Linked DNA regions of Homo sapiens. The protein of the gene in region 1 purifies or fractionates together with the protein of each later gene. This does not show direct contact. Each region holds a gene or a part of one and is shown on either strand. Other genes may lie near its edges.

The links. Proteins that work in one complex are often made in the same cells at the same time.
Region 2: the proteins of PEDS1-UBE2V1 (region 1) and CHORDC1 fractionate together in Homo sapiens (co-fractionation; 2 studies listed by BioGRID). This does not show direct contact.

What each region holds. Positions count from the first base shown.
Region 1 is NC_000020.11:50,143,715-50,150,740, forward strand, and holds part of PEDS1-UBE2V1 (TMEM189-UBE2V1 fusion protein), read right to left. Parts: intron 180-7,026; coding exon of another isoform or gene 15-179; intron 1-14.
Region 2 is NC_000011.10:90,220,029-90,227,095, forward strand, and holds the start of CHORDC1 (cysteine and histidine-rich domain-containing protein 1), read right to left. Parts: upstream 3,022-7,067; 5' UTR 2,927-3,021; coding exon 2,863-2,926; intron 2,672-2,862; exon of another isoform or gene 2,501-2,671; intron 1-2,500. UniProt on the Homo sapiens protein: Regulates centrosome duplication, probably by inhibiting the kinase activity of ROCK2. Proposed to act as co-chaperone for HSP90. May play a role in the regulation of NOD1 via a HSP90 chaperone complex. In vitro, has intrinsic chaperone activity.

The DNA.
Region 1 (7,026 bases):
TGAGACAGAGTCTCACTCTATCACCCAGGCTGGAGTGCAGTGGTGCCATCTCGGCTCACTGCAACCTCCACCTCCCAGGTTCAATCGATTCTCCTGCCTCAGCCTCCCGAGTAGCTGGGATTATAGGCACCCGCCACCATGCCCGGCTAATTTTTATATTTTTTAGTAGAGATGGGGTTTCACCATATTGGCCAGGCTGGTCTTGAACTCCTGACCTTGTGATCCGCCCACCTTGGCCTCCCAAAGTGCTGGGATTACAGGTGTGAGCCACCGCACCTGGCCAGGAGCTTTTCAACTTTGTTTAATGCATCTATATTGCCAACCACAAGCTGAGCTTACAGACTCCCGCAAAGGAGTCTGTACCCATTTCACAGATGACGTCACTGAGGCCCTCACCAAGGTCAAACAGTCAGGGCTGGATGCATTAAACCAAGGATGGGGCCCTTCAGAGAGTGGCCCAATTCTCTGACAGACCAATTCTTTGACAGACAGGACCAGAACTCTGGTCTCCTGGGCCCCTCTGGGCTCTCTCTGGAGACACCTAAGGGAACTTTAATGAGCTTCTTTTTCTTTTTTTAAAGTAGAATCTTTGTGGCTTCACTTGTCCCCTTTTGCAGGTAACTATTTGGAGGCAGAGGCTACAAACAACCTTTAATCCTGGTGGCTCACACCCTGCCCAGCCTCCCTCAAGCAGGCTCCAGACAATGAGTCAGGAATTCATGGACAAATAGGGCTCTGGGGCAGTGGGGCTTCTAAAAGTATGGCGTGTGGGCCAGGGAGGCAGAGCTTCTGATTCCCAAGAGGAGCCAGAAGTCAGGCTTTGGGTGTGCAATCTGTTTCAGTGTTGCCACATAGTTTTCACAGACACACGAGCCCAGACAAGCTGATTCACTCGCTGCAGCTTTGTTTGTGGTGTCAAAACTTGGGAAATAACCTAAGTGGCCATTGCCTGGGGATTGGCCAAATGAATTCAGTCCACATCATCTCTGCAGCCAGGAAAACACCTGGGCAGTTGTCTATAAGTGGACGTGGAGAGATGTCCAGGACATCTAGGTAAGTGCAAAAAGCAAAGTGCCAAATAGCAGCCATTTATGTTAAAAAAAAATCTATATAGTTAAGACCGGCTTTTCCCTTATTTCCTTTTAAAGTACTAGCATATTACATTGTTTTCTTTTAATTGTAAATTAAAATAAAAAAATAAAAGGGGGCCATGCATGGTGGCTCACACCTGTAATCCCAGCACTTTGGGAGGCCGAGGCAGGAGGATCATTTGAGACTAGGAGTTCGAGACCAGCCTGGCCAACATGGTGAAACCCCATCTCTACTAAAAATACAAAAATTAGCCAGGCATGTGGCGGGTACCTGTAATCCCAGCTATTCGGGAGGCTGAGGCAAGAGAATCACTTGAATCTGGGAGGTGGAGATTGCAGGGAGCTGAGATGGCACCACTGCACTCCAGCCTGGGCGGCAGAGTGAGACTCCATCTCAAAAAATAAAAACTAAAATAAAAATAAAAATAAAATAAATAAAAGGGGTTAGGCCCAGTGGCTTACTCCTGTAATCCAAGCACCCTGGGAAGCTGAGGCGAGAGGATTGCTTGAGCCCAGGAGTTCAAGACCAGCTTGGGCAACATAGCAAAACCCTGTCTCTATTAATAAACAAAACAAAACAAAAAATTTTAAACATTAAAGGAAATAAGGCCGGGTGCAGTGTTTCACACCTGTAATCCCAGCACCTTGGGAGGCCGAGGCAGGCAGATCACCTGAGGTCAGGAGTTTGAGACCAGCCAGGCCAACGTGGCGAAACCCCATCTCTACTAAAAATACAAAAACTAGCCAGGTGTGGTGGCAGGCGCCTGTAGTCCCAGCTACTCGGGAGAGGCAGGAGAATCGCTTGAACCCAGAAGGCGGAGGTTACAGTGAGCTGAGATCACGCCATTGCACTCCAGCCTGGGTGACAAGAGTAAAACTCCATCTCAAGAAAAAAAAAAATTAAAGGAAATAAAAACACCATGTGGGTGACATAGAACATGTGACTAGGGTATGCCCCAGGCAGCTGCTCCATAAGGCACAGAAGACCTTTAATGACAACAATTTTATCATGGGTGTTTAAAATATACTGAGCAGTTACTACATATCAGGCGCCTGCTGAAGTGATGTCCTTTTGCAGATGAGAAAACTGACCATCAGAGTGGTCAAGGAAGTAGCCCAAAGCCACCCAACTAGTCAGCAGAGACCAGAATTCCATGGCCAGAGGTCTGGCTCCTAAGATCCCGCTCTCGCCCCGCTCTATCCTGTTCCTGCTGCCCCTGGTCCCTCCCTCTATTCCCCATCACCCTATCACCTTGACGACATTCTGGGTCAGGAGCCCAGGCCCCCACTTAAGCAGCGGGGCCAGGCAGGTCCCTGTGAAGGGGTCAGGGCCAGAGCAGGTGAGAAGGGCTCCTCCTGTGTCCACCCTCTCTTCTTTTTAGGACTCTGTGCATGCTGTTCTCTTCACTCCCTGTGCACCTGACACTGTTCCTGCAGATCTCACCCTGGAAACCTCCATCTCCAGGAAGCCATCCATGATGCCTCCTCTGACCCCACACTCCCCCCACACGAGGCCCATTGCTCATGCCTGTGGCCTTGTCTACGTTTGTCTTTCCCTACCTAAATGTGAAGTCGGGAGGCCCAGAACCATGTCTGGCTCACTCACCAGGGCCCTGACACTCAGTAAATGCTTGCAGAATGAGCAAATTCCCAACCACAATCCTAACGGACAACTCCATGGCTTTGTCTCTGGGTGCCGCTCACCGACATACCTTGGGAAGGAAGTACTGGGTTCCCCATTTGTCATGATAGGGAAACTGAGGCTCAGGGAGAGAGAAGGCCTTCTCCAGGTCACACAACAGCAAGCTGCTCCTGACCTACCCTGACCCAGAACCAGGACAGCTGCCCTCCCCTGCCCCTTGAAAAGACCAAGGCTCAGAAGGGGAACGGAACACACCAGGGTTACATGCCCTTGGCTCCTTTTGTGCAGAAGAAGACCGTGAAGCCCAGGAAGGAGAAGGACCTCAACAGAGGTCACATAGCAGAGGTCACAGGGGCCTAGATCTCCTGGTTCCCCAATTCTCAGGCGAGGGCTGTTTCTCTTGAGCCACGCAGCACCCCCACTGCCCCAGCAGCCGCCCCAGCCTGGGGATCACCATGATCAGGCCCAGCAAGGCCTTCCCCTTTCTGATTCTTGTTTGTAGCCAAGGCCCAGGGCTCAGAAGCAGAAAACCCCGAGTGGGTGGGGTGGGAGGACACGGAGAGGCGGTGAGAAGGAAAGAACAAGTGAACCTTCCCGATCGACCTGCCTGCCTGCCCCACAGCATGCAGGGACAGGAAGTGGGCAGAGCCAACTGCAACATGATCAAATAACAGTTACCCTAACAATGGCTGACACACACTGAAGCCTGTCATGCGCTGGGGTGTGGCCCATATCGGAGAGGTTGCAAACTGACTCCCTCTGACATGTTTTGCCCTCAGTTTTAAAAAGTGAGCTAAATTTGAAAATCACGTAAAATTCCTAGTTTCCTGCTTCCCTCAACAACACAGGGCTCTGGCCACCCTAGGCCTAAACAATAAGTAATAGCTGCCCCCATCCAATGGGATATGAGCTCCAGGTTCACCCTGGTCCTCTCCCTTCCCTGGGGTCTCACACTGGGTGGCCAGATTTGGTGGCAGCCCTGGCTGGGCCCCTGCAGTCATCTGAGTTTTTGAGTCTGAGGCACAGTCTCTCATTCAAGTATCAGCCCGTCAAGGAAGGAACTGAGTGATCTCATTTCCTAGACAAGGAAACTGAGGTTCAGAGCTGGGTTTGGATCCCAGACACATCAATGAGACATGTTAGCCTGGACGTTCGGGGCAGTCCTGAAACCAAAGATGATCCAGCTCTCTCCCCACGCCATGGAGAACGTCCTCCAAATCTGAATATTTTTCCATCTAAACTCCATCTCTCTTTGGCCTCTGGAAGCTGGATCCTTCTGCAGACCAAATACCTTAATTCTCATCCATAAAGAATGCATACACAATGGCCGGGTGTGGTGGCTCATGCCTGTAATCCCAGCATTTTGGGAGGCCGAGGTGGGCAGATCACGAGGTCAAGAGTTCGAGATCAGCCTGGCTAACATGAACATGGTGAAACCCCGTCTCTAAGAATACAAAAATTAGCCAGGTGTGGTGGTGTGCACCTGTAATCTCCTAGCTACTCGGGAGGGTGCACCTGTAATCTCCTAGCTACTCGGGAGGCTGAGGCAGGAGAATCACGTGAACCCAGGAGGCAGAGGTTGCAGTGAGCCGAGATCGTGCCACTGTACTCCAGCCTGGGCGACAGAGCAAGACTCCGTCTCCAGGGGGAGAAAACATACACAACTTAAGTAGCTTTCACTGAGCAACTGGAACATGCCAGATACAGGGCTAAGATGATCTCAGCACCCCTCACCACCTCCTGGAGCTAGGGACCCTCTGTCCCATCCTTCAGAGAGAGAAGCTGGGCCTGGAGAGGTCAAGGCACTTGTCCAAAGTCACTTGAGGGTCACCAAAGTCACAGCATGGATCATCAGCCTGGCAGGGCCTGTGGGGTCAACTGGCCTAAACTGTATCACTTAACAGATGAGCAGACTGAGGTGGGGACAGGGAGGGTGGCTGCTCAGGACACAGGAGGCCCGGGCTGTCTTCTGGCTGTAGTGCTGAGGTCCTGCTATCAGAGCCAGCCCCTGGCTTGGCAGGGTTTGAAGATCTGAGCCAAAAGCAGTAGCCACTTATTGGCCTGAGGAAGGGGCTGGCCTCGTGTGGTAGGTATGGGGAGCTAGGAAGAGCAGGGGAGGCCTGGGGTCATGCCTTTGTCATCCTGCTTTCCAGGGGACAGGCTGCAGTCAAAGGCTTGGTGGGCCCAACTCTTCTGGTTCCAGGCAGAGACAAGCCCCAAATAAGCTGGACTTCTGAGGACCCCTGGCCTCCAGCAGACCCTCAGCCTCAGGGAGATGGGGGACAAGAGGTAGAGAGAAGGTGGGGATGAGAGATGGACAGAGGGACAAATAAGAGATGAGAGACAAATAAGGAATCAGAGCCATGGGAAGATGAGAAACAGGCTGAGTGCCGCGGCTCATGCCTGTAATCCCAGCACTTTAGGAGGCAAAGGTAGGAGGATCACTTGAGGTCAGGAGTTGGAGACCAGCCTGGGCAACATAACTAGATCCTGCCTCTACAAAAATAAAAATAAAAATTAGCTGGGCGTGGTGGCTCACACCTGCAATCTCGGCACTTTGGAGGCTGAGGCGGGAGGATCATTTGAGCTCAGAAGTTTTGGGTTGCAGTGAGCTGCAATCGCTCCATCACACTCCAGCCTAGGTAACAGAGCAAAACCTTGTCTCAAAAACAAACAAACAAAAAAACCGAAAGAAACAAAGATGAGAAACAGAGACAAAAGGAGCAAAAAACAGAAAGCCCATCTGGGGGACTGAACCCCTGGGTTCAGCTTTGGGAGTACAGGCCAGGACTCTCACCCAGTACTCCTGACACCCTCCACCTTTCCCTTCCCCCTGTGCCAAGAGCCTCTGTAATCCCCAGGGCAGGGGGCACCCACAGTTGGCCTGGGTGGGGTACAGGTGGATCAAGGACCGTGAGGCTGCACCCATGAAGCCTGGGGCACCTGAGAAGTAGCACACACATGGCCAGATTTCAGCTGGGACCTCCTGGGAAGCTGGACACCCGCCTCACCCTCTGGCCTGCCAAGCTGGCCAGGCCCTTCACAAACCCTGACATCTGGCATGAGGTGGGCTGCTGCTGGGAAACTCAGCCCAGAACAGGACAGAACGGCTCCTGGGTCCTGCAGGACCAGGGCTCAACCTCTGGGCCAGACACTTGGGGCCTGCGAAATCAGGCTGTGGCCGCCTCCCTGCTGCACCTGTCACCATTCCCTCAGCCCCATGCTGCTCTGGTCCAACTACTCACAGCTCCCTACACACAGAGGCCCATTCTCTGCCACCTGCCCTGCACACATGCTGTTCTGATGATCCGGAATACTCGCCCCCACCTCCCACACACTCACCCCTGGCTGGCTGACTTCCATAGTGAAGAGTAAGAACACAGAACCTAGCGCACCCCCACCCGGCCCAGTCCCGGGTTCCAGGCCTAGCCCTACTGCTGCCCGGTGCCCCGCCGTATGACCTCAGGCAGCCTCTCCCATTTTCTAAGCCTCAGGAAATGTTCCAACAAAAGTGGACTGGGTGCTCATGAGGGGCCAAGCACTTTAATCAAACCAAATAGGTTCAGTCCCTGTCCTGCTGGCCTTCCCATCAGGTGAGGGCAGATGCGGGCCTAACCCCGATCAGGGTGAGCTTTAGGAAGAGCATGCCTGGGGTGGGGGTTGGGAGGGGTTGCAGCCTCCTCCTCTGTGAATGCAGTTAATATCAAGGTACAGCTCACACGGTTGTAGTGGGGATGCACGGAGAGCAGGTGAGGAAAATGCCAGCACAGTGAGGCTCAATCACTCGGCTATGTTGATTGCCATGATTATGGCTGTCAACTGTCACAGTGCCAAACCACCTCCAGCCCCAGTAATCTCAAACATTCTGCTCCTAGAACCCAGGAACTTCTTCTACTCTTCCCTCCAGCCTACATGTGTCCTCCATATTCCCTAAACATGCCTGGCAAGCTCCCACCTCAGGGTCTCTGCATTTGTTGTTTCCCTGGTCTGGACCAACCCTTCTTCAAATATCCTCAAGGCTCCCTCCCTCCAGTCCTTCCTCCCTTCAGGCCTCACTTCGAATGTCACCTGCTCAGGGAAGCCTTCACTGCCCCCTCCCTAAAATGTCATTCCTGTCCCCAACATTTCAGATCCCCCTCTCCTGCTATGTATTTGCTCCACAGCGCTTGCCACCACTGGGCACGTGAGACAGTTATTTGTCAAGTTTATGGCCCGGCTATTTACTAAAATGCCAGCTCCGTTTTTTTCTTTTTCTTTTTTTTTGAGACAGAGTCTCGCTCTGTCATCCAGGCT
Region 2 (7,067 bases), on another chromosome or scaffold:
TATGAATTTTGTTTTTGTTTTCTTTTAAGCTCATCAGCTATCATTAGTGTTAGTGTATTTCATATGTGACCCAATTATTCTTCTTCCAATGTGGCCCAGATAATTCCTCTTCTTCCAATGTCGCACAGGGAAGCCAAAAGATTGAACACCCTTGCTCTATCACCTGATTCCTGGTGTTGCCTCAAAATTTACTACTGGTGCTCACAGAAATCTCCCTACCCCGTTACTAGCCAGTATTGCTTCCTTAGTAACCATGTGCTGCATAGATACTAGCTAATGTAGAAAGTGTTAGGTATCTTCCTGATACAGTAAGTAAATCCGTGGGATCAGAAAGATGTTATTAATTAAGGGTAGTTGTGGAATTAAGGGCTGAAAAAGGAGGTTGGAAGTAGAAATGGGTATGCAGAAGGACATGAAGTTGAGAGGGGAATGGAAGTAGAGAATAGATCCAGTATTTTCAAACACCAAATTTAAAGTAGTCAGAAACATAAACGCAATGTATAACAGAGTCAGAGGCATAAAATGTCACAATAAGTCAATTTTGGCAGCATGGCAGCAGGAATGAGTCAGATCTGAACCATACAACTAACATGAACACAATTAGAAAGCCACTGCTTTCAAAAACAAGAAGTAACAAGCAAATGGACATTCTTCATTCTTTCTTTAATATCCATCCTTTCTTTATCAGTTTTAAGAGTTTTGGCAAAATTAATATTTTATGGGTGAGAAGCTACAAGACAGTAGCAGTGGTTAAGTGTCCAGGGCTTCTAACATTGGGTCTGACCCTGGCTAAATTTCTCACTGAGCTACTCGCTAGTAGTTCCTTCAGTTTTCCTCGTATACGTCGATTAAAAAAAATACCGTTTGTGAAGCTGTGTTTATTCTAGAATAAGTGTTTAACATATGTAAGTTACCAACTGTGTCTCCCTTAAACACCCTTTAACTTCAGTTACAAGTTAAAACGTTCTATCAGCTTAAAAGGGAGTCTAATTTCTGTCTCTAGGGGGAAAAAAAAATCATGAGACTATAAGTCAACGAGCACGGTAATTATGCCACAGCACCGAGAAAAAAAGCATTTAGTGTAGATTAAGAAATATTTAAAGATGACAGATCCAACATCTGGCTTACGCAAAATGGAACTTGCTTGTGTATTTACCTCTTTTAACTTATTTCTGTCAACTGTACAAGGTCAAACCTCTTCCTAAAAAACCTCCTAACCAACCTTTCTATTTAGTTCTTGTCTCCTACTCCGTATCTCCATTTTCTTCTCCTTCCATTCACTCAATCAGTTTACTTGAAAAATGTATTCTAAGTCTCTAAAAAAACCGTCATTTCGCTAAAGTAAATATACTTATTGGAATTTCTCTGCTGTAACTAGTACTGCTGACCACCCAAGTTTTGAGACGGTTTTCCTGGTCGCTTTCTGTTTCCTAGGCACTGCACCAATTCACACATGGATACAGACTTCCAACAAATGACTATCGCCCCTGAACTTTATTGTCTCATAAGCAAAGCGTCAGTCTTTCCCCTGTATTCTATATTAAAGTAGAATATCTGCAGACATAAGTGCAATTAATGTTTTACATAGGCTGCCAACACCAAAGGGCTTTAAAATCGTTTCTCGATTTTGTCATCGACTGAAATCTCACAATTTTCCTCATGAGTAGCATCATATTTGCATCATAAAAATGTCAGTGGCGGTAACTTGAGTATTGCATAGGTTGGATTTTCCTTTTCCTTAAAACTCTGTATCAATGGTCTTATTTTAAATAACGCTATCAATTTACCTGTGTGCCAAAAATAAGTATTTCAAACATCTCAGAGGTGAAGAGTTCAAAAGGCATCAGTTTTCATCTCCTCCACAATAATGAAGGATGTTATTAATACAACCTCATTGAACTGAGCTTCTCTATCAAATGGGTCTAATTAACATTACATGCGTCCCAGGGTGGTTATGAAGATTAAATAAGATAAAGCAATAATGGCTGGCATGCAGAAAATATAAACTAAATGCTAGTTCAATCTGAAAACGTGTTGTCACTTCTCACGATACGCAAGGAATCATCTCACTTCTTTGTCAATCAAAATTTCAATTCACTGATCATTTCCCGTCCTTCACCTAATAGTCATTTTCGCTTTGGATCCTTAACTCGACATCTAGGTGCTGTAGATGACATTCACTCATTTTATACGGGAGTAGGCATGGTAGTAAAACGTGGAGGCCACAAGAAGAACAAGCAACAAATGCCGCTAGTAATAAAAAGATAACTAACGTACCACCAGGATGAACCTATCAAAACAGCGTGAAGATACAGAGTAATGTCCCTTACCAAGAACACTTGTAAGAGGTTTGTAACAGCGGATCGACTGAACACAAACTTCTACAAGGCAGAGCTTACATGCTAGGACAACCCGCTGCTCATCCCGGCCACCTCTCCCTCTCGCGCAGGCAATCACAGCCATCACTACTTCGGGAACTACAAAGCAAGCTCACCAGTACCTCGTTAATTTTTGCTTCCCCAGAGACTGGAGGGCCAGAGGAGAAACGTGTTCGTTCTAAATTCCAGGCGACTTAAAAGGAGTGCGGGGACGACGGGGGAAACACGTGGATCCATGGGAGCGTCTCTCTCCGCAGTGGCAGAGGACAGTCAGGCGCCGGGGCCGGGCGCTCGCCAAGGGAACGCGGCGCAACAGAGGGGCGGCCGGCGGGCTGCGCGGGCAGCCAAGGGAGGCCCAGGAGGGGCATGGACCTGGGGCCGCGCGAGGACGGCTGCAGGAGATCCGCGGACACCCTCCGGCCCAAAGGGCCTCCCCTGCTGATGAGGTGGAGGGGAGGGAGGGCTGGCGGCGCGTTCCTCTTACCGTCGGAATTGGTCTCAGGATCGAAGCGCTGACCGCAGCCCCGGTTGTAGCACAGCAAGGCCATTTTCTTTTCCCACCGTCACAGGCAAGGCCCAAACACCGGGAACGGCAAGAGGATGCGTTTGCCACTCCCGTGTCGCTAGCACCGGTCTGACGACTGAGGCGGCTACCGGCTTCCGGAAACGATCCGTTGCGTTTCAGGAACCTTCGCGAATTTTCCGGTCGCGCAGGCGCAGAGGAGAAGGGACGAGGCGGAGGTAGCGGCGGGAGGCTGGCACTAGCCCGGGCCACGATAGGTCGGACTACAGCTGGTAGCAACTGGGGGTCGGAAGTGGAGCCCAGACAACAGCGGAGGAGAAATTTCCGGGGCAGAAAATGAAGGTGTCCGAGAGACTGACAATTCTCTTCTGACTTCCTCAGTGCTAACTGGCTTTGGGTATCTCCTGCAGCAAAGTGGCCGCCCCGCCCTCTCATCCCCTGCGACCCAGCACCCTTCTTCCTTGCCTTGAGGCTGCGCCTTAGACAGCCCGGTGGGTATCTGTTTACCCCTTAGCACTAAGGGATAAGTGCACAGTAAGTGCAGAATCATACAGTGTTTCCAAATCCTCAGGGTAGACGTGTGAGCTTAGTAAATGAGAGGAATAGCGGACGAACCTCTCCGTGTGTTTGTGTCTCGAGTGCCCTCATCTCAGGAGCAATTTTAATAACTTAACAGTTGCGGTCACATTACTTTGAAAATACAAAAAACGTAGAAATCAGAGTAGCAAAGAAAATTATGGATCTGATGCTGTGCCAGAATTGATCACAGTTGCTCTAAAGCCCTGGGGTAATAGTTAATATTTCATGTGAGCCTCCACTTAAACGATTTATCAATACTCAGTACACCACTCTTGGAACAGCTAGTAAAACTTCAGGTGCATTATAAAAAGTACAGTAATGCATTGGCTTCAACTTGCATATTTCCCAAACATGGGCGTTTGCAAGAAAAGCAAACACTTTTTGATAACATATACTGAAGGATCTTAAAATAAGATCAGCAGCTTATAAGTGAACCTAAAAATCTATACACTGTTTCCATTGATCTCAAGGTTATTTAGAGATCTGCTCACGTCCTCCTACCCCTAAAGACTTTTTAGTTTTTCATATTCTCTTTCTCTTCTTCTACCTAGAAGTATTAAATTTTCATATTGTGATCCACCATAGATAGGTATGTTTTCTTCATTTAACCTAACGTGAGTATTTTTCTATTTTGTTTCATAGTCATTGTTACAAATGACGGAGTATTCTGTTGAATAAATGCACTGTAATTTAACCTTTCTCTAATTTCCCCAACTTTATTATATATAAGTTACAGTGCTCAACCTGTGTATTGTTTTTCTTATTTCGAATTTCCCCCTTTAGGAAAATTTTTGGAAAGCGACAGTTCTGGGGTAAAGGGCATAAGGCTTTTTAAATAACTTTAAGATTTTAAAGATATATAGAGCCAATTGCTTTCCGAAAGGTGGTACCAATTTACAATTGCACCGGCTGTGAATGTAATAGACCGTAGAAATTGATCATACACAATTGGAAATGAGTAAGTGGAGAGCTCTAAAAAGTTTTAGTTGTGACCAAATCTGTTGTCTTGAGTATCCTAGTATCAATGCAACATTACCAGGATTGTTAGTGAACTAAACCTTTTAAATAATTTTAATGTTTATTTCTAGTTTTTCATCTGTAGCATTTTACAATCAGAATATAATTGCTTATGGTAGATAATTTGGAAAACGCAGAAGTATACTAAGAACAAAGTCAACAATAATTCCACCACCCAGCAATAAGTACTGAATGGCTAAAATAACTCTTTGGTAAATTTATTTTCAGTGTTTCCTGACACCCCAAGCATTTATAGATATATATGTTTAAAAAGAGTCGTGTTATATATAGGAGTTTATGTTCCTCCCTTGGGTATTTTGAGAAACTATAAAATTAAATCATTCTTATGATTAAGAAAAACAGTGTTACAGCAACAGCCTGTTTCAATCCCACCTCCACTTACATTTCCATTCCAACACTTCAGTGCTGACTAACACCCACTGTTTGAAAAACTTTCTAGAATTTACATGTATATTTTATATACACTTTGAATATATCTTCCCTTCCTTCTTTACCCCCATACATATCAAAATATGCTTTAACTTTGACTATCTTGTTATTAACAAAAGACTTAAATAAATATGTTAACTTAAAACAATTGTCAATTATTCTTGGTGCAAAATGAATGTTTATCATACTACTCTCTTTTTCTGCATTTAAAAATATTTCTTAAAACAATTCAGTTAAGTTTAATTAAGCTCCATTATCTTGGGCTGGGTGCTGTGGCTTACGGCTGTAATCCCAGTACTTTAGGAGGCCAAAGTAGGTGAATCACCTGAGGTCAGAAGTTTGAGACCAGCTTGACCAACATGACGAAACCCTGTCTCTACTAAAAATACAAAAAAATTAGCTGCGTATGGTGGCGCATGCCCGTAACCCCAGCTACTCGGGAGGCTGAGGCAGGAGAATCACTTGAACCGGGGAGGCAGAGGTTGCAATGAGCTGAGATCATGCCATTGCATTCCAGCCTGGGTAACAAGAGCGAAACTCTATCTCAAAAAAAAATTAATTAATAATATAAATAAATAATAATTAAGTTCCATTATCTTAAAAACGATTATAGATATGTATGTATCCATGTACGTGTATAAAATAATATTTGAAAAGACCATTAATCTCTTATAATAACGGATATGTATAAAGACAAGGATGAGTTTAAAGGAGTAAAGTTAATATTTTACTTTATACTCTTAGATATGTTTTGAAAATGTAAATACATACTCATTTTTGATATAGTTAACATTATGAAGAGGACAAAAAACCAACTTAACAATGACTATTTTTATTTGTTCTACTTTATTCGAAAGATGAAAATTTCATCCATTATGATTGTGTGTTGAGCAGTTTGTGGTTTCTGTATTTTGAACATATATTATTCATCCTATAAAGGTGCATGTCTTTCGTATTTACATAGTTTATGTTTTTAATATAAAATGACCTTCTTTGTATCATTTTGTATTTTTGTCTTGAAACCTACTTTGATATTAATGCTTCAACTTTTGCTATGTTTCTCTTTGTTTTTGCCTAATAAACCTCACCCTATCCATTTATATTTAACCTGTGTCATCTTGTTTTGGGCATATCTGCTGTAAGCAGCAGATAGATTGCATCTTGTTTTTCTTTTTTTAACTCAAATCCGAGAATCTTTTTATTTTGCAGAGAAGCTTAACCTTTTTATTTCTGATTAATGCTTGAAAGTTCAGGTGCCAAAGTGGCCCAGAACTTATTAATGGTTTTATAAGTCAATTAACGTCAATAAGCCTGAGTTTTCTTATCTGTAAAACATTGATAACAGAGTGCTGTGAAGATTAAGTTAAACAATGCATGTAAAACATATAGTCTAGTGTAAGCACTGAATGATAATTTCACAAAAGTTTAGCAATGAAAATGGTCAACTTAGATGTTTAGTCCTATTTGGTTATTTCACTTTTGTTTTCCCTTTTATATGCAGTTGTGTCTGCTTCCTTGCTTTTATTTTATTCTATTTTCTAAATAAAGTATGTGCTTGCTTTTTTATTTTGTCCACGATTTAAAAAAAAAATATATATATAGGTTTTAATTTATTTCAGCATGTATTAAGTAGTTAATGTGTGTTGGTACATTAGATGCAGGATACAGTGGTGAACTGAAGTGACATTTTACCTGTCTTCGTTGTATTTGAATTTTATAAGAAAGACGGATGTGAATCAAATATTCCCAATTATGAATTCAATCACTGATAATTGCCATAAATGCTATGAATGGGAAGTACGTTATGCTAAGTTAGTGGAGATGGGAATTTGCCTAATCTTGAGTTGGAGTGCAGGCATAGGTGTTAGTCTAAACAGAAGTCCTGCAATGGAAGGTAGTATAACATTAAAGAAAGCACAGAATCATCGAGGTAAACCAATGCTCAGAAATAAGGGATACCAGATGTATTAGGACATTCTTGCATTGCTATGAAGAAATACCCAAGACTGGATAATTTATAAGAAAAGAGGGTTTAATTGGCTCACATTTCTGCAGGCTATACAGGAAGGGCTCAGGAAGCTTTAACTCATGGCAGAAGGCAAAATGAGAGCTTGTACTTC